Homo sapiens: one gene and its partners. The protein of the gene in region 4 purifies or fractionates together with the protein of the main gene of each other region. This does not show direct contact. Each region holds a gene or a part of one and is shown on either strand. Other genes may lie near its edges. The genes, in order: AMOT, CAPZA2, ARPC1B, CTTN, ARPC4, ARPC2 and FMNL2.

Region 1 (3,500 bases), on a different chromosome or scaffold from region 4:
GGAGGATAAAAAATATGTATCTTCCTGTAAAATACATGCAGCTAAATTTCTCCGGTGGTTTAATCAGGATGGGAAGAAAAGGAAAAAAAAAGAAAACCTCTTTGGGCTCCTCATTATTTATTTAGGCAGATCAAAGGGCAGATAATTTTCCATCTAGCTTCAAACACTGTGGGAGTCATTTCAGATCACAAACAATACTGGTGAATGAGTTCTGAAAATAGCTTTCCTGGGAAGGCGGGCTGTGTGCTGAGTGGGGCTGTGGCTTCTGCTCCACACCCCAGCCAACACACTCCCCTCCCACAAGGCAACAGACATCAGCCCATCAACAGACTCTTCCATACTGATGGGAAAAGCAAAATAAAAACCCCCAGCTTCATTGATATTTTGCTGGCTTGAATGGGTTTCCACTAAGTGAGGCAGTCTTGAACAGACCAACCCCTCCCTGGGTCTTCTGTTTCATTGGTCAGATGGGAATCTGGTTCTTGATCTCTTTTAAACCTGAGTAGCCTTGTTGGTTACCCCATTTCCTGTTCCAAGACACTGATCAGAACATAGGCTCCTGCCCTTTGAAAGCTGCACAGAGGAGGTTGAAAAGGGTTAGGAAATCAACCTGGGTTAAGAGGGAAAAAAAAAAAAAAATCCTAAACTGGCAAAGTTAGAGGTGGAGTCCAAAGTGAATTGCCTCTGGCTACAAAAACAGGACCTGCAGGGGAAAAAAAAGAAATACCAGGAAATGCTAGGTGCCTTCTCTCACTTTCACCCTACTCCACCCCATGACTGCCTTCTCTCCTGAGTCACTCAATGAACTTCAAGCCAGAAGGTTTTTTCCAAAATGAGCAAGTAGGGTACAGGAGACAAAGAGGTAGACATCAAAGGACATCACAGACCTAGTCTGTGAGCCGCATATAAATGAAGGCCAGCCTAGGACCAAGCACTTCAAACCTGATGGTCACCCATCATTACTCATGGCCATGAGGCAGGATACCACACTTAAATGCCACCATCGGTCCCCATGGTTTAAACCTTTTCTCCTGCCCTATATGTGGAAATACTACTGATCAGAGACATGGCCCAAATACTAACAACAGGAACAATGAACAGAATCATAGAATCATAAGGTCTAGTGAATATAGCAGTGGGACAATGGACCTCTGAATAATTAAGAAGTATATATAGGAACAACTAAATATATAAGACAGAAATGGTAATATTTTTCCTTCTGTATTTTAGCATCTGACCAAAATTTCTATATGATGTGATGGGAATTTAACTCAGAGGTTTAAAAATGTGACAGGCAACTAATAAATTCTCTACAAAAAAAAGATACAACAGTCCAGATTTCATAAACTGCAAGCATAAGGCAAGTAACATTCTGAACCTACATACATACATAGCTCCCCCACCATAACATCTGGGTGTTTGTTTAGTCCAAAAGAATAATGGTAATTCTATGGAAAAATGGTAACTGACAAGAAATACACAGATTTGTTTGCAAAAATAAATGATGAAAGCTTCATGGAGGGGAATATGTGCAAGTGATAGGATGTTCCAGACTAATTAAAGTGCAAGGTAATTTGCTTCTACCTCTCAAGGAGGGCTTATGAGAAACACAGACCCCTTCAACATCCTAGGAGAGAGGACAGCAAATAGCTGCTGAAAACAAGACTTTTGCTCCTGTTCGTCCACTAGGCAGTTGAGGCCATGCTCAACCTACAAAGCTAAGGGATTGTTAATACAGTGCTAATTATGGCTAAAGAGGATACAAATTCGGGTTGGCAGGCAATTCACGAAGCCAGAGGCCTGTCATGCATTGCAGAGTTTGTTATATCAAACACCTGCCCGTTCCTTCCCTAAGATTCCCAACACACAGCAGAAGCTGGTTGGGGATGAGGTCAGGAAATGACAGAAACAGAACTCTCTTACCTGGCTGCTCCATACTCAGGGGGATGCTGATACCTCATCAGTTGCCCCTCTGTTCTCCCTGGCTGGTTCAGGCGATGCTCACTATAGAAGTGCCCTGGCTCTTGGGGCTTGCACACTACAGATTGGGGTGGCATGCCCTTGAAGGGATATTCTGGTGGGGGGCCTCGGTGTTCCATGCCCTTCAGGCTATGCTGGTTAGGAAGTGGCCCTTGGGCCTTGTAGAATTCACTGGAACTTGTGGGATTCTTGTAGAGGTCATTGGGTTGTGGTGGGGAGAGGGGAGCACTGGTAACAGGTGGATGGGCCTTAACTCCACTGGTGGCCAGTGACATCTGCATTAGTCGTTCACTCAAGGAACGGACATGCCCTTGCTTAAGGTCTCTGAGTCCCTCATCTTGGTGCATCTTTCCAGGATTGAGCCGCTGAACTGATGGGCGTCCCTCAGTCCTCATCTTCTGGTTGGTGACTCCAGTGACATAGAAGGCAGCTCCAACACTGGCATGCTGTTGGCCCCGAAAGTACTGGGACTGGACCTTGGCTTCTTCATAGGTCGGGAGTTCTTCATTATTTTGCATTCGAGGAGACAGCTGCTTCTCCATGATGAGGTTTTCTGACTGGATTTCCTGCCCCTGGGGTTCTTGTCGAGCAGCATGAGCCACAAGCTGTTGGTGGTGGTCTTGGGGACTCAACACATCACTCTGAGGGCCCGGGTTCCCACTGCCACTGGGGAAAGGAGGGCCATTCCCTGTGGCTTGCTGGTGTATGGCAAGCAGGCTGCGATTCTCACTAGGATTGCCATAGCGAAGCTGCTCTTGTAGCAAACGCTGCAATACCGTGGTCCCTCCACTTGGCTGTTCTTCAGAATTTCTCATCTCTATTGCTGGTGGTGCCTTGTGAAGAGAGAGAGAAATTGGGCACCTGGGCTGCCCTTGACCTGGGAAGGGGAAACAGGAAGCTTAACACCCAGTTGATGGATAAATCAGTCCTCTAAAGGGAAAGAAAATGGATATTGGAGGGTGAGGATTCGATTGCAGAAACAAAGTAGAGAATTGACTCTAAAATTAATAGATTGTTGGGGATTCCAGGCCCTAGCACTGATATGATGAAGAACATGGAGGCATAAGAGCTCTAGGTTTTCTCTTTCACTTTTAGCATGAGTTAAATATTCAATCTGGACTTAACTCCTAAGAATGCTTGAGAAACCTGGAACAGTCAACTAGGGTAATCAAAGGGGGTAACTTTTCAAGGTCCATATTCACAGGCTTCATCTCTCTGTATTCTATTTAAAGCAAAAACCCAAATCTTATGGCTGTGGAGGTGGGGGCAGGACAGTGGGGAAAGTTACCCCATAACAGGATTTGTAAAGCAGCTCAGCATATGAAGGCAGCTACAAAATGCAAAATAAAGACTCAAATAAATAAAAGGTGAAGAGAGCTTGGCTTGCACCAGACAGTAATGATCCCTGCCTCGATGCAAATCTTTTTCTCTGATCTCATAAGGCTCTGAAACATCTTTTTAAAAAATCATTTTCATAGTCTCCATTTTGGATGCTCCTTGGCTTAATAAGAGAAGGACTT
Region 2 (3,500 bases), on a different chromosome or scaffold from region 4:
TAAAACTATAAAACAATCCTACTCCAAGCATATATTTTAACCATATGGTACAACTATTAATACTTCAAATGAGTTGACTATACAGACAATGACATTACTCTCATCCAGTGCAGATCAGATTTTCTCCCAATATAACTTCCAGCTACTGGTGAAAAAAAATGCAACCTCTAAAAACACTGTTCAAGTGGGTTTGGTGGGTTTTCTGCTTTGAGAACTCTAACAGTTTACAATGTCTGGTATCAGACTCCAGTTCCTCAAAACTACAGAACTTGTGAGAACCTCCAATCAGGGTGGTTACCTGAATGGCTTTGGTCTGGTGCAAATCCTCTTTGGTGTGTCCCCCACCTTGCCTCTGGGCCCACAGTCTTACCTACTTTGACGTATCTGTTTCTTGCTTCTTAAAAACTACATTGACAACTGATTTTAATTGACTTCCAAGTATTTAAAAACATACTTCATTTCCATAAATTTAAATAATACATCCACAATGCATAATGTATAATCTGATATTTTGTGCTTTATTTAAAAAATTTCCCCTTTTCCTTCTCTTGTAATTCTTCCAGTCTTTGACTCCTTAGCTATGTCGGGACTTATCCATCCCTCTGATATATATCATGCTAACAACACAGGATATACCTTTCTAAATTTTTTTTCATAGTCATAAAATCTTACAGATAAAGATATACACATGTCTATACTTGCATACACACAGAATTTTTTGGTCATTATTTTACTACACTTGATCTTAGCCAAAAGGCCGAGAAGCGACTGGTCATTATTTTATAAGAATGCAATGAAAATGTGTGTGTGTACGTACACACACACACACACACACACACACACACACACACACTCTTCTCTGCATCTGGCTTCTTTCAATATAAACATCCTATGGAAATCCCTCAAAGTCAAGTGATATATTTCTCACCATTCTTTTAAATGGCTGCATAATGTCCCATGACGTGATTATAACATAATTTAGTCTGCCAATCCACTACTGATGTGCCATCTCTTTATTTCTGGGCTGTTTCCTTTTTCGGGGAAAGGAGGAACACATTAAAAATGGTGAAATAAGACTGGGTGTGGTAGCTCATGCCTGTAATCCTAGTGCTTTGGGAGGCCAAGGGGGCAGGATAGCTTCAGCTCAGGAGGTTGAGACCAGCCCGGGCAACATAGTAAGACCTCATCTCTACAAAAAAATTTTTTAAAATTAGTCAGTCGTGGTGGCATGTGCCTGTAGTCCCAGCTACTCAGCCCAGGAGATTGAGGCTGCAGCGAGCTGTGATTGTGTCACTGCACTCCAGCCTGGGTGACAGAGCAGGACCCTGACTCAATAACAACAACAAAAAAGGTGAAATGAGTATTGCTGTACATATATTTTAACATACTGATGTTTTTATTTCCATTGGATCCTTTTATTTCTATTGAATAAATTCCCAAGCAGTGGTGGTAGGGACATCAGGTATTATAATTTTTAATATATACTCCTGTGACAATCCAAATTTCTACACATATATGAGAGTATGTTTCCATCCATATTACCACCAATGATAGGCACTATAGCTCTTTTTTTAGTCTGATGGTAGAAAATATATCATTTTAATTCCACTGACTACTGATAAAACTAAGTATGGCTTTTCACATTTGTGGGTCATTTGCTCTTCTGTGAGCAAATATAATAAAATATTTTTATCTGGTGTCTTTTTCTTATCAATTTATAAGAGTTCTTTAAGATAGGCTTCATTCTACAGTTAAAAACATTTATAGTAAAATGTCCATCTTTTATACTTCCTGGGTATCCAGTGTTATTTAAGATGGTCTCCCTAGCCCTGTATTGCACATGTAGACTCAGATTTTCTTCTAAAATGTTAGCCACTTTTCACATTTTAAAACCACCTGAAATCTATTTCTGTATACTGTATGTGACAGAGGTCCAACTTAATTTTCTTCTTATAGAAACCAGTTATGCCAATATCTGTATAAAATTTTTCATATATTCTGAGACTAAATTCTGGTTCTCCATGCTGCTCTAATGATTTTTTGTCTACTCCATACACCACCACATTGACTTAACATTGGCTGTAAAACAACTTGTACTATCTGGTAAGGCAATTCTCCCTCATTGTGCTTAATGGTTTTTTCATAAATATATACATATATATATATACACACATACACACACACACACACACACACACACACACATTTCTTCGTTATTTCAAGCATGTTTTTTTTTCCACATAAACTTTATGAAAATATTGACCAATTAAAAAAAAACTGATCAGGATTCTAATTCAAATTTCATCAAATCCATACATTACTTTTAAAATAATTTAATTTTCTATCTAAGAATGGAATGTAGAGCACCTTTCCATTGGTCAGATCCTGTTTTATGTGTTTCAAGAAGAGTATCACTATTTTCTTTCTTAACAGTTCAGGGGTACATGTGCAGGTTTATTATATAGGTAAACTTGTGTCATGCAGGTGTTGCACAGATTATTTCATCACCCAGGTATTAAGCCTAGTACCCATTAGTTATTTTTCCTGATCCTCTCCCTCCTCCCACCCTTCATCCTCTGATAGGTCCCAGTGTGTTTTGTTCCCCTCTATGTGTCATGTGTTCTCATCATTATCTCCCACTAATAAGTGAGAACATGTGATATTTGATTTTCTGCTAAGATATTTTATTAGTCTGCTAAGAATAATGGCCTTCAGCTCCATCCATGTTCTTGCAAAGGACATAAAGCTTGTTCTTTTTCACGGCTGCATAGTATTCTATGGTGTATATATGCCACATTTTCTTCACCTAGTCTATCATCACTGATATTTAGATTGATTCCACGTCTTTGCTATTGTGAATAGTGCTGTAATGAACATATGTGAGCATGTTTCTTTATAATAGAATGATTTCTGTTCCTTTGGGTATATAACCAGTAATGGGATTGCTGGGTCAAATGGTAATTCCGTTTTTAGATCTCTGAGGAATCGCCACACTGTCTTCTATAATAGTTGAATATACACTCCCACCAACAGTGTATAAGCATTCCTTTTGCTCCGTAACCTCACCAGCATCTGTTATTTTTTGACTTTCTAATAATAGCCATTCTGATTGGTTTGAAATGGTATCTCATTGTGGTTCTGATTTGCATTTTTCTAATTATCAGTGATGGTGATCTTTTTTCTCATATGCTTGTTTGGCCTCAAGTATGTCTGCTTTGGAAAAGTGTCTGTTCATATCCTTTGCCCACTTTTTAATGCGCTTGTTTTTATCTTTTAAATTTAAGTTCTTTATAGATGCTGGATTTAAACCTTTGTCAGAGGCATAATTTGCAAAATTTGTCTCCCATTCTGTAGGTTGTCTGTTTACTCTGTTGATAGTATCCTTTGCTGTGCAGAAGCTCTTTAATTATATCCCATGTGTCAGTTTTTGCTTTTGTTGCTTGAGAAGACCGTCACTATTTTCTTCATAATCGTATGCCTTTTTTTGATGAAGCTTATTC
Region 3 (3,500 bases), on a different chromosome or scaffold from region 4:
CCCCTGCAGACCGGCCACCTCCCTTCTCCCCGTCTGAGCAGTGTGGGGGAAGACCAGGGCTCTGGGCACGGCAGGGCCAACTGCCATGTGCTGGACACCTTTCTAGGTGGTTTATGAGATTACTTCATTTCTTTTTTTTTTTTTTTTTTCTGAGATGAGTCTTGCTCTGTCACCCAGCCTCCTGAGTAGTGGGGATTACAGGCAGGTGCCACCACACCTGGCTAATTTTTTTTTTTTTTTTTTTTTTTTTTTTTGAGACGGAGTCTCACTCTGTCGCCCAGGCTGGAGTGCAGTGGTGCGATCTCGGCTTACTGCAAGCCCCGCCTCCCAAGTTCACGCCATTCTCCTGCCTCAGGCTGGGACTACAGGTGCCCGCCACCACACCCGACTAATTTTTTGTAGTTTTAGTAAAGACGGAGTTTCACCATGTTGGCCAGGCTGGTCTTGAACTCCTGGCCGCAAGTGATCCGCCTGCCTCGATCTCCCAAAGTGTTGGGATTACAGGCATGAGCCACCGGGCCTGGCCTGGATGACTTCATCTTCATCCCATCCTTAATGGGGCAGGGGAAGTTGGGTGGGGGGGGGGGGGTCGTCCATCCTATGAGGAAACCGAGGCACAGATGACAAGTGAGGGGCCTGTCCAGCTTGGAGTCCTAGCACCCCACCCCGCCCCAGGGAGCATCTCCCCTGTAGTACCGTCTCCTCCACCCTGTCCCTGGAGCCTCAGAGACATCCTGTGAAAGCTGCCCTTTTATAAGGAGGGAAACTGAGGCCCCAGGAGGGGAAGCAACATGTCAGGCCAGTTGGGAGCCAGGGCTGGCCCCTGCTGCTCCTCTCTGCAAACTGCTGCCCCTCTAAACTGAGGGGCCTCCCTGGTGTGAGGCCTGTGAGGATCATCTGGGGCCTGGTATGGGTGAAGTCAGGGGCAAGGTTGGGGCTGACGTGGATTCTCTCTTCCTCTCTCGGGCACAGGAGCCAAGCCGCCATGGCCTACCACAGCTTCCTGGTGGAGCCCATCAGCTGCCACGCCTGGAACAAGGACCGCACCCGTGAGTGCTTGCTGGGGGCCGGTGGGTGGCTGCTTCCACCTCCTGGGATGGGGACCAGCCAGAGCACACATGGGGACTCTGGAGCAGCCAGGCCCCCGGACCATGGGCTCCATGTGGCTGTCCCCTGGCCTCACCCCTGGGTCTTCCAGCTGACCAGGGGCCTCCTGGGTTAAAGTTTAAGGAGGGAATGGGCCAGTTGCGGTAGCTCATGCCTGTAATCCCGGCACTTTGGGAGGCTGAGGTGGGTGGATCACTTGAGGTCAGGAGTTCCAGACCAGCTTGGGCAACATGGTGAAACCCTGTCTCTACTAAAAATACAAAAATTACCTGGGCGTGGTGGTGGGTGTCTGTAATCCCAGCTACTCGGGGGGCTGAGGCACGAGAATTGCTTGAACCCAGGAGGCGGAGGTTGCAGTGAGTCGAGATTGCACCACTGCACTCCAGCCTGGGCAACAAAGCGAGACTCTGTCTCAAAAAAAAAAAAAGAGAGAAAGAAAGAAAGAAAAAGTGACCAAGAAAAAGCCTTTCGGAGGAGATGACATTTTGACATTTACCCAGAGACCCAGAGGGGGAGAGGAAGGGAACTGTGCCCCAGCTGGGGAGGGGCTGGCAGGTGCAGGGGCCCTGAGGTGTCAGCAGGAGCAGCGAAGGGTTCCTGGTTGGCCAGAGCAATAGGGTGGGGAGAGGTCCCAGGGTTCATTGCTGCGAGTAAAGGACAGCCAGTTCCAGGAGAAGACAGGGTGGCCTAGCAGGGCCTGAAGGACTTCAGGGGGCCCCTGCAAGGCAGAAGAGGAGAGACTGAGTCATGAAAGGTGAGGTGTTGTTGCCTAGGTGCACTGTGTAGTGTGTCCTGGCAGAGGGCAGTCATGGAGAGGGCCCCTCAATCTCCCTCCATCTCCCCTTCAGAGATTGCCATCTGCCCCAACAACCATGAGGTGCATATCTATGAAAAGAGCGGTGCCAAATGGACCAAGGTGCACGAGCTCAAGGAGCACAACGGGCAGGTGACAGGTATGTCAGGGTGGCTGGGACCACCGTCCTGAAAGGAGGTGGTGGGTTGGGGGGGTGGTGCAAGGCAGGGCATGGCCACTCATTGTGGAGCATCTGCCCACTCACCGTGAAACCCGGATTCAAACTGGCTTCAATTTTAAGGGGACTGTGTTGGCTCATGTTACCAAAAACTCACAGGGTTGAGGGCTTCAGGAGAGGCTTGATCCAGCAGCTCCACATGACCAAGAACCCATCTTTTCTGCCTCTTGGCTTTGCCCTCCAGCATGTTTGCTGATAGCATGGAGGGCTCTGACACTCCCTCATAAGCTCTAGGAGTGCCCCCTGGTGTCACTCTAAATAAGCACTGGATCTCAGTAAAAAGTGCTTGCTGGGCCGGGTGCAGTGGCTCATGCCTGTAATCCCAGCACTTCAGGAGGCCAAGGCGAGTGGATCGCTTGAGGTCAGGAGTTCGAGACCATCCTGGCCAACATGACTAAATGTTGAAAAATACAGAAATTAGCCGGGTGTGGTGGCACGCACCTGTAGTCCCAGATACTCTGGAGGCTGAGGCAGAAGAATCGCTTGAACCCAGGAGGCGGAGGTTGAAGTGAGCTGAGATTGCACCACTGCACTCCAGCCTGGATGGCAGAGCGAGACTGTGTCGCAATAAAAACAAAGAAAGAAAGAGGCCGGGTGCGGTGGCTTGCGCCTGTACTCCCAGCACTTTGGGAGGCGGAGGCGGGCGGATCACCTGAGGTCAGGAGTTCAAGACCAGCCTGGTCAACATGGTGAAACCTCATCTCTACTAAAATACAAAAATTAGCCAGGCATGATGGCGGGTGCCTGTAATCCCAGCTACTTGGGAGGCTGATATGTGAGAATTGCTTGAACCCGGAAGATGGTGGTTCCAGTGAGCTGAGATCGTGCCAGTGCACTCCAGCTTGGGCGGCTGAGCGAGACTCTGTCTCAAAAAAAAAAAAAAAAAAAAAAGATTGGTGGTACACACCTGTAGTCCCGGCTACTCAGGAGGCTGAGGCACGAGGATTGCTTGAACCTGGGAGGCAGAGGCTGCAGTGAGCTGAGATCATGCCACTGCACTCCAGCCTGGGTGACAGAGCGAGACTCTGTTTCAAAAAAAAAAAAAAGTGCCTGCTGGGCAGATACAGCTTCCACCTGGATGGTGGCCTTTCAGCCTCTCCCATGTGGCCACCATACAGCCACCTCTGCCTGAGTGTCATCAGCCTCCTGTGTTCCCTCCATCCCCCCACAGGCATCGACTGGGCCCCCGAGAGTAACCGTATTGTGACCTGCGGCACAGACCGCAACGCCTACGTGTGGACGCTGAAGGGCCGCACATGGAAGCCCACGCTGGTCATCCTGCGGATCAACCGGGCTGCCCGCTGCGTGCGCTGGGCCCCCAACGAGAACAAGTTTGCTGTGGGCAGCGGCTCTCGTGTGATC
Region 4 (3,500 bases):
TGTGGCAGTACAGCTACTGCTCTCTAGAAGCCAGCATGGGCCCCGTGCCATGTGCGTGTGACCCTTCCCCAGGATGCGGCTTCCTTCAAGGCAGAGCTGAGCTACAGAGGCCCTGTGAGTGGGACGGAGCCGGAGCCCGTGTACAGCATGGAGGCCGCTGACTACCGAGAGGCCAGCAGCCAGCAGGGCCTGGCCTATGCCACAGAGGCTGTCTATGAAAGCGCAGAGGCCCCGGGCCACTATCCCGCAGGTACTGGGGCCCCACGCTGCAGCGCCCTGCCCAGGGCAGGGAGCTCCCGGGACATCCTGCTCGACCTGTGGCGTCGTTGCGAGGAGCGTGGGTTTCCCACTGACACGCCTTTGCTTGCTTGCTATAGGGTCTTCTTGTCCCTGGAGGGAAGTGCTCTAGGCACATTTGGGGCATCGGCTCCTGTGCTGGGTCCCAGGAAGATCCCCATTGTGCTGGGGACGGGTGGGCAGGGGCAGAGGAAGGGAGGGTTTCAGCTGCCGCCCTGTGTCCTTGAGACAAAATCTTAGGAAGTGTCGTCTAAAACTTGAGAAGGCTGGGAACCTGTGTGGGACTTTGTATTGTTCAGCTCTGTCATGGCTTTCTTTTAGAGGACAGCACCTACGATGAGTACGAGAACGATCTGGGGATCACAGCCGTCGCCCTGTACGACTACCAGGCTGGTGAGCGGCCTGCAAAAGCACTTGGAGGGGAGACCCAGGCAGCTGCGCCTGCCTCTGCTTGTTTTCTGAGAATTCACTTCTCTAGCGTTGTTAGTTTTAGAAGTAATTTATGTTGAGATAATTTCAGAGATATAGAAAAGTTGCAGGTATAGTGCCAAGAACTCCCATGTTCCCTACCCGGATTCCATCTCTGCACACACACGCACACACCCCCTGTTATCTTTAGTATTCTCTGAACCCTTGGAGAGCTGCAGGGGTGCTGCCACCCCCAAAGACTCCAGCGTGTTTCCCAAGATCAAAGATGCTGTCCCACAGGGACACCCCACCCTCCAGGTGAGGGGGCCGCACAGATGCCTTGATGTTCGAGACCCCATTCCTGCCTGTCCTGCCCCGGCCGCCAGCTCCCGTGTGGCCTGCACGTTCCCCTGAGTTCCCTTTGCGGCCTTGGCAGTTTAAGAGCAGCCTCAGCTCCTGGGCTGGCCTCAGCCGCCCGCCCCGTGTTCCCTCAGGGCCAGGCTGAGCTGTGCTCTGGTGGCGGTGAGGTCTTGGAGACCATGCGGTGGGGCTCTCTGCTGGGCCGCATAGCATCCACTTGTCCCTCTGTCTCAGCCACCACCTGGTCCACAAAGTCACCACCACCCCTCTGCAGTTGACAAGCATCTTACGGGTGGCGTGGGATTCCCCTCAGAACCCCCGGCCTCTGCCTCTTGAGTGCTTCCCGTTTGCAACTTTCCATCAGCGCGGAAGCTGGCATTCTACCATAAGTGAGCGCTGGCCGTCCCCGTTCAGTGCCTTTTGCACACGTGCATTTGCGTACACGCATGTGGGTGTGTCTGTGGCATCTCGGCACCTGTGCGTGGATTCTCATCACCGTGGCTTTTGCCCTCCATTCCCATTTCAGCCATCACCTCGGGCTTCTCTCCGGGTGTCCCCTGGCTGTCCTTCCACTGCGGCCTCCGCAGCCCATCTCCCCACCCCCTCCACAGACACGTCTGCCAGAGAGAGGGGAAGGGAGGGCAGGCGGGGCTGGAGTTATGTGGTGGAAACCTGCTCCTGAGGAAGGGGTCCGGGTGGGGTTGGTGCTTGTGTGAAGGGCTCTGTGCCTCTTTGTACTCTCTCGGTTCATGTTCACAAATCCTGGCCTTGGTGGCATGGGAGAGGCAGCAGGAGCCTCCGCGGTGGTCCGCATCTCTGCAGGGGGCATCTCTGAGCAGGCTGCCTGGGAGCTTGCTCTGGGTTGTGCTTTTTTTCTGGCAGACCAGGAAACGCTTGCACTTCAGCATCTTTCTCTGTGTTCTCTTCCCCAGCGGGCGATGATGAGATCTCATTTGACCCTGATGACATCATCACCAACATCGAGATGATTGACGACGGCTGGTGGCGCGGGGTGTGCAAGGGCCGGTACGGGCTCTTCCCAGCCAACTATGTGGAGCTGCGGCAGTAGGGCCCCCAGCCCCCCCCCGGAGCTGCGCCCTGGATCCTCACACTACAGATCAGGCCTTCTTTGGTTCTTGGGTGGTTTTGGGTTTTTTCTGTTTTTTTTTTTTTTTTTTTTTTTTTGAAGGTGGGGAGGGGAATATACACATTGCTTTTATATTTAATACTTTTGCTGATGCTTTTGAAAATGTTTATGCCACAGAATTTGCTAATATATTGTAATCACATTCCTTAGGAGGACTTTGGTAATTGGTTTTATGCATTGATGGTTTTTTTTTTCTTTTTTGCCAAATTGACTGTCACGCGGCAGCTTCAGGGAGCTCGCATTCTCTTGTGTTCGTGTTGCCCTCGTGCCCATCAAGTGCAGTCGGGACCTCCCAGGACAAGCACGAGGCCTCAGGTCGGCCCTGTGGCGGGTAGGCAGGAAGGACTGTCCCAGACGAGGGGCTTCCTCTAGAGTCTCACTGCTGGGGAGGAGAGGACTGGGCCTGATGGAAGTTAACCCGGAGCTAAGTCACCCAGAGCACAGGAGCTGCCATGTCAGATGGGAAATCTGCCTATGTCATACCGTGACAGCCCGCAGGATCAGGTGACTTCTAGCAGAGACCCTGGTTTTTTTCCTGTGCCCACTCCGGCTTGTCCTCATCTCTACCCATCCCCTGATGCCCAGGTCACCGGGAGGGCTGCTGGGAGCCTCTCCTGTCCCCGCCGGGCAGTGTCACTGAGTCCTTGAAATCCTCCCCTGCCCCGCGGGTCTCTGGATTGGGACGCACAGTGCAGTTGAGGTCTGCGTCGGGCTTGGCTTTTCACAAAGGCTGATGTCTTAACTGTCACCCATATGGTCCCTGGGCCACCGGGCAGCCTGGGGCGGTGTGTGTGCCATGTCACAGCATGGCCTCTCGGCCTTGGGAAGGAAGGCAGTGCCTGCTCTGCTGTGAGCCGCCAGGAACCCTCCTCCTGTCAATGGGGGTGTAGTATTTTTGCCAAAATATCATGTTCAATTTCAGTAGTTTGATCAGTTGAAGGCTAGAAGTGTGAAGTGCAGATGAGTGTGTGTTCTTCCCCAAGGTCCCCCCACAGCTCCAGGACACCGCTGTCCTGGCATTTGTGGCCACTCACTTTGTAGGAAACTCATCTCCTTCCTGAGGAGCCGGGAGGCTGGACCAGTCCCGTCGTGCAGTCAGGTGGGCGGTGTGTCTTTCCAGAAGGTCACGTGGAAATGTCTCGGGACTTGGGTCCCGGAGTGCCCGTGAAGCGTGTTTTTGCTCCTGAGGTGCATTTTCTCATCATCCTTGCTTTACCACAATGAGCAATGAGGTCGGGTTTTATATGCAACTTATTGTATCTGAATTCCTGTAGCACACCTCATAGGT
Region 5 (2,260 bases), on a different chromosome or scaffold from region 4:
TATATATGGTACAGTCACTGGTAGCTGTTAAGTTGCCAGTGGGACTGGGGAACTGGATTTTAAACTTTATTTAATTGTAATAATTAAAATTTAAATAGCCACTTGTGGATGGTGATTACTGTTTTGGCACAGGCAAAAGTCTACTCTCTTGCTCACTGGCTAGATTTGGGGCAAGCTATTACATCTCATGTTTGGAACCTCAGTTTCCTTATCCACCAAATGGGAGCACTGTTTCTCTGAGGTTACTTTTTAGCCCAAGTAAGTTCCTTATGTGAAAAGCACCAAAGCTCTGTATAGGCAGACAGAGCAGTTTCAGAAATTAATGGTGCCTGGACTGCAATGAATGGAGTCTCTGGGTTGGGACCCCTGGCAGGAATAATGGCAGGACCAATCATGAGACTGCACCCAGTGGGGAGCTCCAGGCACAATTACCAGCCATCTGGTCTCAGGGAAAAGAAGCCCCACCTCCCCTCCTTTCACACACACACACAGCATAGACCTCATGCAGCCCCAAAGGGGCAAAAAGAGACTTTAATTAGGGGAGGGAGGATCCACCAGAATCAGAAAAGGGACAGCTAGCGTGGGAGCAGAGGAGCCAGAACAGGCAGGAGGAGGGCCCGGCCAGGAAGCTCTGGAGGACTCACCTCGCCACCTCTGGCACAGGCACTGGCACTGACGGACAAGGCGAAACAGCGGCCCCTCTCAACTGGGAGGGCACCCAATGGCCCCTGTAGCCAGAGGTTGCCCGGCTTTTGGGCCCCAGGTCCTAGGCATGACTGGTGGTCACCAATTTGGCCCTTGTCCCCAACCAGTGCTGGGGGGCCATCTTTAGGCAGAACTCAGGAAGCTGGCAGAGAGTTCCCAACACTTATACTGGGGCCAAGGAGGCTTGGGAATAAAAGGGCAAGGGAGAAACTGGAGTCTGAAACCTCCCTCCCTCCCCACCTGGGGTGGCATAGGAGAGAAAAAATAAGTCGCCTTCTGGCTCCAGGCCCGCCCAGACCCACAGCAACCAATAACGTATAATCACTGGGACCAGTCACAGCCACTGGAGGTGGAGGTTTAAAAAAAAAAAAAAAAAAAAAGACAAAAAGGTTACAGTATCCTACAAGCACAGAGTTTAAGTTTCAAGACGTTAAAAAAAATCTGTCCCGGCCCAGGGGACTGAACATCAGAAGCCAGCCTGACCAGGCACGTGTGGCCTTGGGGCAGGTCCACTGCTGCTTTCTTGCCCAGCTAGCAAGCACACCACCCACCTCCCGCATCAAATGCCCACCCCAACCCAACTCCCTGCCGCCGCCGCGCTGCTCGGGGAGTGACTCCAGGACGCCTTCGTGGAGACATGGGTAGTCTGAGGGGGAAGGCCACGAGATCCAGCCAGATGGTTTAAAACTGTCAAGAGAACCAAGAGGCAGTGCATGGTGGTTATTATTGCATCCTGGTGGCACTGCTCTAAGGAGGTGCATGAACCTGAGAGCTGCCACTGTGCTCATATCTGTGAGGGGCAGAGTTGGGTCCCAGGACACCTTGTGGTCATGCTCTAATTCAGCCAGCTTTCAGAAGTGACCTATGGGCACCGGCCCTAAGCCTAGCACTAGATAAGGCAGAAAAATTAAGAGCCATGAGAGCTTCTCCACAGCTCCCTTGTGCCCTGGCATGGAGGCTGCTAGAAAGCCCTGCCAGCGTCCTGCCTGGTGAACTGAGGTTGCTTTCTTTAGGCATGGGGGCTCTCATGCAAGGGGCCTGGGGACTCAGAGGGCCAAGTGGAAAAGGACCCAGGTTCTGGTACTTTTGTGTCAAGCTCTGGATGAACCTCCAACCAAGCCAGGCCCTTGAAATGTTTTCTGCCCTCAAGGGTCCCCCATGCTGCCTAGGACAGCCCTGCACATTTTAGAGACCAAAGGTTGTGAACCAATGGCCCATGCCTGAAACTAGCCCAAAGATGAGCACTGCATGGCCCACATGGTGTTTAAAACAATATGAATTAGTTGCCAACCTTGAAAACATGGAAGATGCCATATACAAATCCAAATTTGGGGGTTCAATGGCCTGGAGCTGTGTGGGAGCCAGCCCCTGCACATGAGGCATGCGCTCAGCAGCTCCTCACCCTGCCCACTCCATACTCAGCCCACTCCATAGCTACCCGACCTTTGGATGCACCTGAATTTGTGACCCTTGACAAAGGCTATGGTACTTTCTTAGACCTCTGAGTCCGAAAACCCAGCTCCACATTCTGGTTCCTCCTCTTACTGGCTGAGGG
Region 6 (3,500 bases), on a different chromosome or scaffold from region 4:
CTAAATCCACTTCCCCTCTGTCTCTACTTTCCCATCCACCAAATGAAAGTTAGGAAGAATGCCAACTTAGGAAGAGCTTGGCAAGTGCAGTACTTTAAAAATAATGAAATTATCATGGCCTTTGGATTAACGTATTTGGTTTTGTTTTGTTTTTATTTTCTAGTTATTAAAGAGGGTGTACGGGAGTTTCTTGGTAAATCCAGAATCAGGTATGTAGTCATGTGAGCAACTATGGAATGACATGGGAAGAGAGGTGTCCTTTTTATATTATGCTTTTTTTACCCAAAGGATTTCGTTTAAATATTATTACAAATATTTCTGCATGAGCCCATTCCTAATTTCAACTCCGTCCATAAAAATAGCTTTTAAGGGGCTTTGCTTTGTCCAATATGGAACACAGTAGAGGTACAAAATTGATGTGTGACATTTTTAACATTTACTTGATGGGGCCACATGACTCTTACTTAATCTTTCAGCCAGAGGGCCACATTTGTTTGTTCATGGTGATTAAAATGGCTTTGAAAAGAATGAGCAAACATTGATTCCCACCCTCGGCCCTTAGTAATTCTGCATACTACATATTTGGAGAAAGAAGAGGAATATTCACCACACTATTCTTGTGATTTCAAGTAATAAAAATCAGACCCTTTCTTAATCCAGTCTTCTAATAGGTTGTCTCAACATTCATGGCCAGAGGAATTGAAAGGCACCGTGTCATCCTTGAATAGAACAGCTATGTTATACTGCTTTAAAAAGGAGGTTTAAAGTGGAAAAACTGAACAGCCTTTTTACCCTGTGATTCAGTGGCATGTCTCAAATTCTGAGGCATTTAGCAGGACCCCAAAGTGAGAACCAGGTAGTAAGACCATTGGAACATAATATTTTTTACTCAACTATTACAACTTTGGTACCTTGATTAGAAAAGTCTTCTAAGAAGGAAGTTCTCTGTCACTCTTAACAGCAGTTACTTGTGCTAGCTTATTTCATCACCTCACCTATTTTTTCAGACAGTCTCATTCTGTTGCCCAGGCTGGAATGCAGTGGTACAGTCATAGCTCACTGCAGCCTCCTCCAAATCTTGGGCTCAAGCAATCCTCCCGCTTTAGCCTCTCCGGTAGCTGGGAACTACAGGCACATGCCACCATACCCAATTAATTTTTTTAATATTTTGTAGAAACAGAGTCTCACTGTCTGCTGCCCATACTGCCAAAACAGAGTAAGGAGGTCTCAAACTCCTAGCCTTGAGCAATCTACCCACCTCAGCCTCCGCCTCCCAGAGAGTTGGGATCACAGGCATGAGCCACCATACCCAGCACCTTTTTTTTTTTTAATCTCCAAATTGGCGGGATGAATGTGTCACAGAAATAAAAGCCAAGATAACACTGTAGGCTTTTGGCAAAATCAAGGTATTAAAAGAAAGAAACAAACAGATCTAGAACAGAAAAATCATGTCCAAAGTCTTGGGCATGCTTGTCACAGCCAACATCCTGACATGGAAAGTTTATGTTTCTGTCCCTGGGCCTCCTTCTACCTCCCACTAAATCATAGACATTGCCAGATTGCAGACCCTGTCTTCATAGAAGTGTGAAATGTAAAAGTGTGTGAAAGTAGTGTCTCAACCAGGTGCAGTGGCTCACACCTGTAATCCCAGCACTTTGGGGAGGCCAAGGTGAGTGAATTGCTTGAGCTCAGAAGTTCAGGACCAGCCTGGGCAGCATAATGAGATACCTGTCTCTATAAAAAATACAGAAATTAGCCAGGCATGGTGGCAGCCACCTGTAATACCAGGTACTCAGGTGGCTGAAGCACGAGAATCGCTTGAACCCAGGAGGCAGAGGTTGCAGTGAGCTGAGATTGCGCCACTGCCCTCTAGCCTAGGCGACAGAGCAAGATTCAGTCTCGAGAAAAAAAAAAAAAAGACCGTAGAGTCTCTCCTCCTCTTTTTTAATGGGTTTATCTAGGCACGTTTGGAAAACTCAGCAAGTTATACTAGATTTTTACTTCTCTTCATCCTCAGTATATTCTGTTCATCATGTTAGAAGCCTTACTTAAAGACAGACTTTACCTTAGCTATAGTTTTATTTGCTCTTATTTGGCTTCCTAAAACTAGCAAACCTCAGCTCTAAATCTTTTCTTTTTTAATCTAACCTTGTAATCTGTGTGCTTATTTGGTTTTCAAGTACCCAAAATAGAATGATGATTGATATTATTTAATACTGGAGTGCCTCTCCAGTATTAAATAAAATGTGCTAAGCATTATCTAGAGCAAAGATTTAGCCCATCCTCCCGAAGAGCCCATGCTCAACAAAAAACACAGACCTCAGCCGGGCGCGGTGGCTTATGCCTGTAATCCCAGCACTATCGGAGGCCAGGGCGGGCGGATCACCTGCATTCAGGAGTTCAAGACCAGCATGACCAACATGGAGAAACCCCGTCTCTACTAAAAGTACAAAATTAGCCAGGCCTGGTGGCGCATGCCTGTAATCCCAGCTGCCTAGGAGGCTGAGGCAGGAGAATCGCTTGAACCTGGGAGGCGGATGTTGTGGTGAGCCGAGATCATGCCATTGCACTCCAGCCTGGGCAATAAGAGTAAAACTCCATCTCAAAAAAAAAAAAATACAGATCTCAGGAATGCTTTTGGGAAAAAATGAAATAGTAATGAGGTTTCAGATACTTAGAAGTGTGAAAGCCATACAGTTCTGGTGAAGTTATTCCCGTCAGTTGCCTAGAATATAAAATGATCCTCAGTGATGTAGAAATATTCTTGCAAAAACATCTCTAGGCAGTTTGACACTTATTAATCATTTGATTCTATAATCAAGTGTTCCAGCCGGCTTCTGGGAATTCATAGTGGACATGCTGTAAAAAGGCAGGTCATCCAATGGTTTCAGTCCATGTTCTGCACCCGTATTGATGACCTGTCATGTTCCACACACTTTAAGTATTGAACATTCTTTTAATGCTCACAACATTCTCCCCTATCTCCGCACCCCCTGCCCTGCTCCTTTTTCTTTTTTTCTTTTTTTTTGAGACAGAATTTCACTCTTGTTGCTCAGGCTGGAGTGCCGTGGCGCGATCTCAGCTCATTACAACCTCCACCTCCCGGGTTCAAGCAATTCTCCTGCCTCAGCCTCCGGAGTACCTGGGACCACAGGCGTGTACCACCACACCCAGCTAATTTTGTATTTTTATTAGAGACGGGGTTTTGCCATATTGGCCAGGCAGGTCTCGAACTCCTGACCTCAGGTGATCCACCCACCTTGGCCTCCCAAAGTGCTGGGAATACAGGCTTGAGCCACTGTGCCCAGACCACCCTACCTGCCCCCCACCACCAATTTTTTTTTTTTTTTAACAGATGAGGAAATTAACAAGTCAGGCAATTTTTTTTGTTTTTGTTTTTTTTTTTTGGAGCTGGAGTCTCGCTCTGTTGTGCAGTGGTGCAATATCAGCTCGCTGTAACCTCCACCTCCTGGGTTCAAGCAATTCTCCTGCCTCAGCCT
Region 7 (3,500 bases), on a different chromosome or scaffold from region 4:
CAACCATCTTTTCCACATTATGTATGCAAAGTAAATTTGAAAAATGGGGAATGTTCATATTCCATATTGCCATTCTTCCGAAAGAATGCCATTTTTTGTGTCTACAGATGTTCTCTAGATTTCAAAAGGACAGGGGACAAAGAAACTTGGTTCTTTTCTCAAACTTGGTTCCTCTCTGAAGATACTAGTCTTCTGGCAGTGTTGGCAAGACTGAAAATAAGACTTTCATTTCTAAAAATGTTGCCTCATCTTTAGTGAGCAGACTTACAAGCTTTTGCTGAAAGCTTTATATTTACCATAAGAGTTTTCTTTCTTGGAAGTTTGTTATAATAAACTGTGGTGATATAGACATAATAGCCAACCATCTCTCATTCCCTTGTGTTAATCTGGTGGAGATTTATGAATATCATAAACTTCAGTTCTCTCCCAATTCTGTTTCTAAATAGACTTTGTTACTGATTATAGTAGTCAGTTCTTTCCCAATTCTGTTTCTAGATAAATTTGTTGGTTTCTGCTTATAGTAGTATGTCTGTTGAAAACATGTTCTGAGAACTTCTGGAGGGTGTTATATTCCCCTCCCTTTTTTTTCATTTTTGATGCCTCCTTCATTGATTTAAAAATATTAATTGTATGACATGATTAGAGGTGGTAGGCAGGAAATTGAGTTCTACCAGAAGCAGCTGTGGACTCTTAACTCTGAGTCTTAGTGGTTGTAGATTGGTTACAGATTTTGTGATAAGCAAGTTCCTATGTTACTTGCTATTGTGAACAGTTTCAGTAAAGATCGTGCATGTAACAATATTACCTGAGACCTAGCAAGACAATTAAATTTGTTATACTTAGAAAAAGTAGACTCTCACCATGAAGCCTGTATGCTCTAAATGCAGGCCTGTTTTCTTCTGTCTTAATATTTACTTGCCAATTAGTTTCCCATTTTTAACATGTCTTTTTTCCCCTTTTTCTTTCTTTGATTGGAATCTAGCAACTACATGCGATTATAGCAGCATCTGTCTCTATAAAGTCGTCCCAAAAACTCAAGAAAATTCTGGAGGCAAGTGCAGTTTTTCTTGTAGGTATGAAGGACTACTTCAGCTGCGTTCAGTGCCTGATGTGCTGTACTGATGGGCTTCTGTTTTCACCTTCTTTTGCAGATCATCTTAGCCCTTGGAAACTACATGAATAGCAGTAAAAGAGGAGCAGTTTATGGATTTAAACTTCAGAGTTTAGATCTGGTGAGTGGACTAAAAGAAATTTGAGAGCTGTTTGAAGGACAGATGGCTGGCAGAGATGAAGTTAGGGTGGTGGAGGATGTTTTGATGAATATTTTCTGCTATGGGAGGATCAACTGGTACTAATTTTCTGGAACACCATTTGACAGAGAGCACATAGAACCTATAATTACTCATACCCTTTGACTCAGTATTTCCATTTCTAGGAATTTTTTCTCAAGTGTCTGAATTTTGAATCCTGTATTTTATTTATAATTGCAAATTAACAATCTAAAGGTCTAACTGTGGGAATGATTAAATGTGCTGTAACACTAGTTAATACAGTGAACTATTATTCTTCCACCGTTAGCATACTGATGAAGAGTGTCCCAAGAAAGATTTGTGTTTAGAAAAGAAAGCAGGGTATGCTTTGCATGTACAGTTGAATCTCAGCTAAGTAAACTATGTGGGGAGAAAGACTGAATGGAAATAGGTTAAAATATTAGCAGAGGTTGGATGGAATCAGGAAATTTTTTCAAACTGCTTTTTGTAAGTACTTTTCTATATTTTCTTAAATTTTTGTTGTTGTTGTTGCATGCAGGGTGCTCTAATTTTCAGAGTCACCTAACTAATGTGAATAAGACTAGAGAAAATCCTCCGTGGACTCCCTCCAGACTGTGCAGGCCTAACGTGATTGTCACATGAGAAGGCTGGGCAGTGGGTTGAGTCCCCCGACCAGGGAGCTAGTTATTTAATATGGAGTGTCTAGTCAGTCACAGTTCTGGCCTCCAGCAGATCATGATCAGTTAAGCATGTCTGTTTCAGGTCTTCACAGGCTAGGAAATAAGGGAGGGCCTAAGCTAAATGTAAAAACTGGAGCATAGGAGCCCTGCTGTGTAGGAGGCACCTGCATGCACCTGCTGGCTGTACATCCCCATTTCTCCTCTGGCTTTTTACTTTGAAGAGCACTAAAATTAGAGCCGTCCTGCTTTTAAGGCAAGGAAGGTGGGATAGCAGATGCAGGGCTGGGAGAGTTCATGTAATCAGTGTCCCCCTTATCCATGGGGGCTGTGATCCAAGACCCCCAGTGGATGCCTGAAACCTCAGATAGTACTGAATCCTATATATACACTGTTTTTTTTCTAGAGATGCATATCTGTTATAAAGTTGAATTTATAAATTAGGCACAGTGAGAGATTCACAATAACTAAAAAATAAAATAGGCCAGGCCTGGTGGCTCACACCTGTAATCCCAGCACTTTGGGAGGCTGAGGCGGGAGGATCACCTGAGGTCAGGAGTTTGAGAGCAGCCTGGCCAACATGGCGAAACCCTGTCTCTACTAAAAATAGGAAAATTAGCTGGGCTAATTTTTGGGTCACAGGCACCTGTAATCCCAGCTACTCGGGAGGCTGAGGCAGGAGAATCGCTTGAACGCAGGAGGTGGAGTTTGTAGTGAGCCAAGATTGTGCCACTGCACTCCACCCTGGGCGACAGAACGAGACTCCATCTCAAAAAAAAAAAAAAAAAAAAAAATAGAGCAGTTAAATAAAACACGTTACTTGAACACAAACACTGCAATAGGCGGCAGTTAACCTGATAACCCAGATGGCTACTAAGTGATTAATGGCAGGTAATGATTACAGCGTGGATCCACTTGACAAAGGGGTGATTCTCGGTCTAGGGTGGATGGGAATGGCACGTGCGAGGTTTTATCATGCTGCTCAGAGTGGTGCGCAATTCAAATCTGATGAATTGTTTATTTCTGGAATTTTCCACTTAGTATTTTTGGATACCTGAAACCTGTGGGTTTCCTGAAACCATGGGAAGTAAACCTGTGGGTAAATAGGAACTACTGTAGAGGAAAGCTGCGAATCATTCTTAGGTGCTTAGAGTCATCCCTATAGTTAAGCATGTGCCCTGGTTGGAAAGTCCTTGAGCCAGTTAAGCATCAATGGACTGGTTCACTAAGGAACAAATGGAATCCTGACCCTCCTCTGGGAATGCTCCAGCCTGTTGGGCGACTGTTACTCAGTTAATGACTCTGGGTGGGAAATCGTCACCTGAGGGGTAAGTGTCTTGTTACCCTTTACTCTTGTACCTAACCCACGTTCCCTTTTGTTTTCAGCTCTTAGATACAAAGTCAACAGACAGAAAGCAAACACTGTTGCACTATATATCCAATGTGGTGAAAGAAAAATATCACCAAGTGTCCCTGTTTTATAATGAGCTTCATTATGTGGAAAAAGCTGCTGCAGGTACTTGATTTCAGCTATTACCGTTCGTCTTGGGTA

The links.
Region 1: the proteins of CTTN (region 4) and AMOT purify together in Homo sapiens (affinity purification with mass spectrometry; 2 studies listed by BioGRID and IntAct, with this or other methods). This does not show direct contact.
Region 2: the proteins of CTTN (region 4) and CAPZA2 purify together in Homo sapiens (affinity purification with mass spectrometry; 2 studies listed by BioGRID and IntAct, with this or other methods). This does not show direct contact.
Region 3: the proteins of CTTN (region 4) and ARPC1B purify together in Homo sapiens (affinity purification with mass spectrometry; one large-scale study listed by BioGRID and IntAct). This does not show direct contact.
Region 5: the proteins of CTTN (region 4) and ARPC4 purify together in Homo sapiens (affinity purification with mass spectrometry; 2 studies listed by BioGRID and IntAct, with this or other methods). This does not show direct contact.
Region 6: the proteins of CTTN (region 4) and ARPC2 purify together in Homo sapiens (affinity purification with mass spectrometry; 2 studies listed by BioGRID and IntAct, with this or other methods). This does not show direct contact.
Region 7: the proteins of CTTN (region 4) and FMNL2 purify together in Homo sapiens (affinity purification with western blotting, with the first as the bait; one study listed by BioGRID). This does not show direct contact.

The regions. Positions count from the first base shown.
Region 1 is NC_000023.11:112,820,332-112,823,831, forward strand, and holds part of AMOT (angiomotin), read right to left. Parts: intron 2,858-3,500; 5' UTR 2,796-2,857; coding exon 1,924-2,795; intron 1-1,923.
Region 2 is NC_000007.14:116,900,587-116,904,086, reverse strand, and holds part of CAPZA2 (F-actin-capping protein subunit alpha-2), read right to left. Parts: intron 770-3,500; exon of another isoform or gene 644-769; intron 1-643. UniProt on the Homo sapiens protein: F-actin-capping proteins bind in a Ca(2+)-independent manner to the fast growing ends of actin filaments (barbed end) thereby blocking the exchange of subunits at these ends.
Region 3 is NC_000007.14:99,384,730-99,388,229, forward strand, and holds part of ARPC1B (actin-related protein 2/3 complex subunit 1B), read left to right. Parts: intron 1-972; 5' UTR 973-985; coding exon 986-1,049; intron 1,050-1,955; coding exon 1,956-2,060; intron 2,061-3,309; coding exon 3,310-3,500. UniProt on the Homo sapiens protein: Component of the Arp2/3 complex, a multiprotein complex that mediates actin polymerization upon stimulation by nucleation-promoting factor (NPF).
Region 4 is NC_000011.10:70,433,029-70,436,528, forward strand, and holds part of CTTN (src substrate cortactin), read left to right. Parts: intron 1-72; coding exon 73-250; intron 251-618; coding exon 619-690; intron 691-1,997; coding exon 1,998-2,134; 3' UTR 2,135-2,437; coding exon of another isoform or gene 2,438-2,716; 3' UTR 2,717-3,253; coding exon of another isoform or gene 3,254-3,380; 3' UTR 3,381-3,500.
Region 5 is NC_000003.12:9,805,342-9,807,601, reverse strand, and holds the end of ARPC4 (actin-related protein 2/3 complex subunit 4), read right to left. Parts: intron 1,393-2,260; coding exon 1,387-1,392; 3' UTR 501-1,386; downstream 1-500. UniProt on the Homo sapiens protein: Actin-binding component of the Arp2/3 complex, a multiprotein complex that mediates actin polymerization upon stimulation by nucleation-promoting factor (NPF).
Region 6 is NC_000002.12:218,234,189-218,237,688, forward strand, and holds part of ARPC2 (actin-related protein 2/3 complex subunit 2), read left to right. Parts: intron 1-163; coding exon 164-209; intron 210-3,500. UniProt on the Homo sapiens protein: Actin-binding component of the Arp2/3 complex, a multiprotein complex that mediates actin polymerization upon stimulation by nucleation-promoting factor (NPF).
Region 7 is NC_000002.12:152,628,674-152,632,173, forward strand, and holds part of FMNL2 (formin-like protein 2), read left to right. Parts: intron 1-982; coding exon 983-1,051; intron 1,052-1,151; coding exon 1,152-1,232; intron 1,233-3,334; coding exon 3,335-3,464; intron 3,465-3,500. UniProt on the Homo sapiens protein: Plays a role in the regulation of cell morphology and cytoskeletal organization. Required in the cortical actin filament dynamics.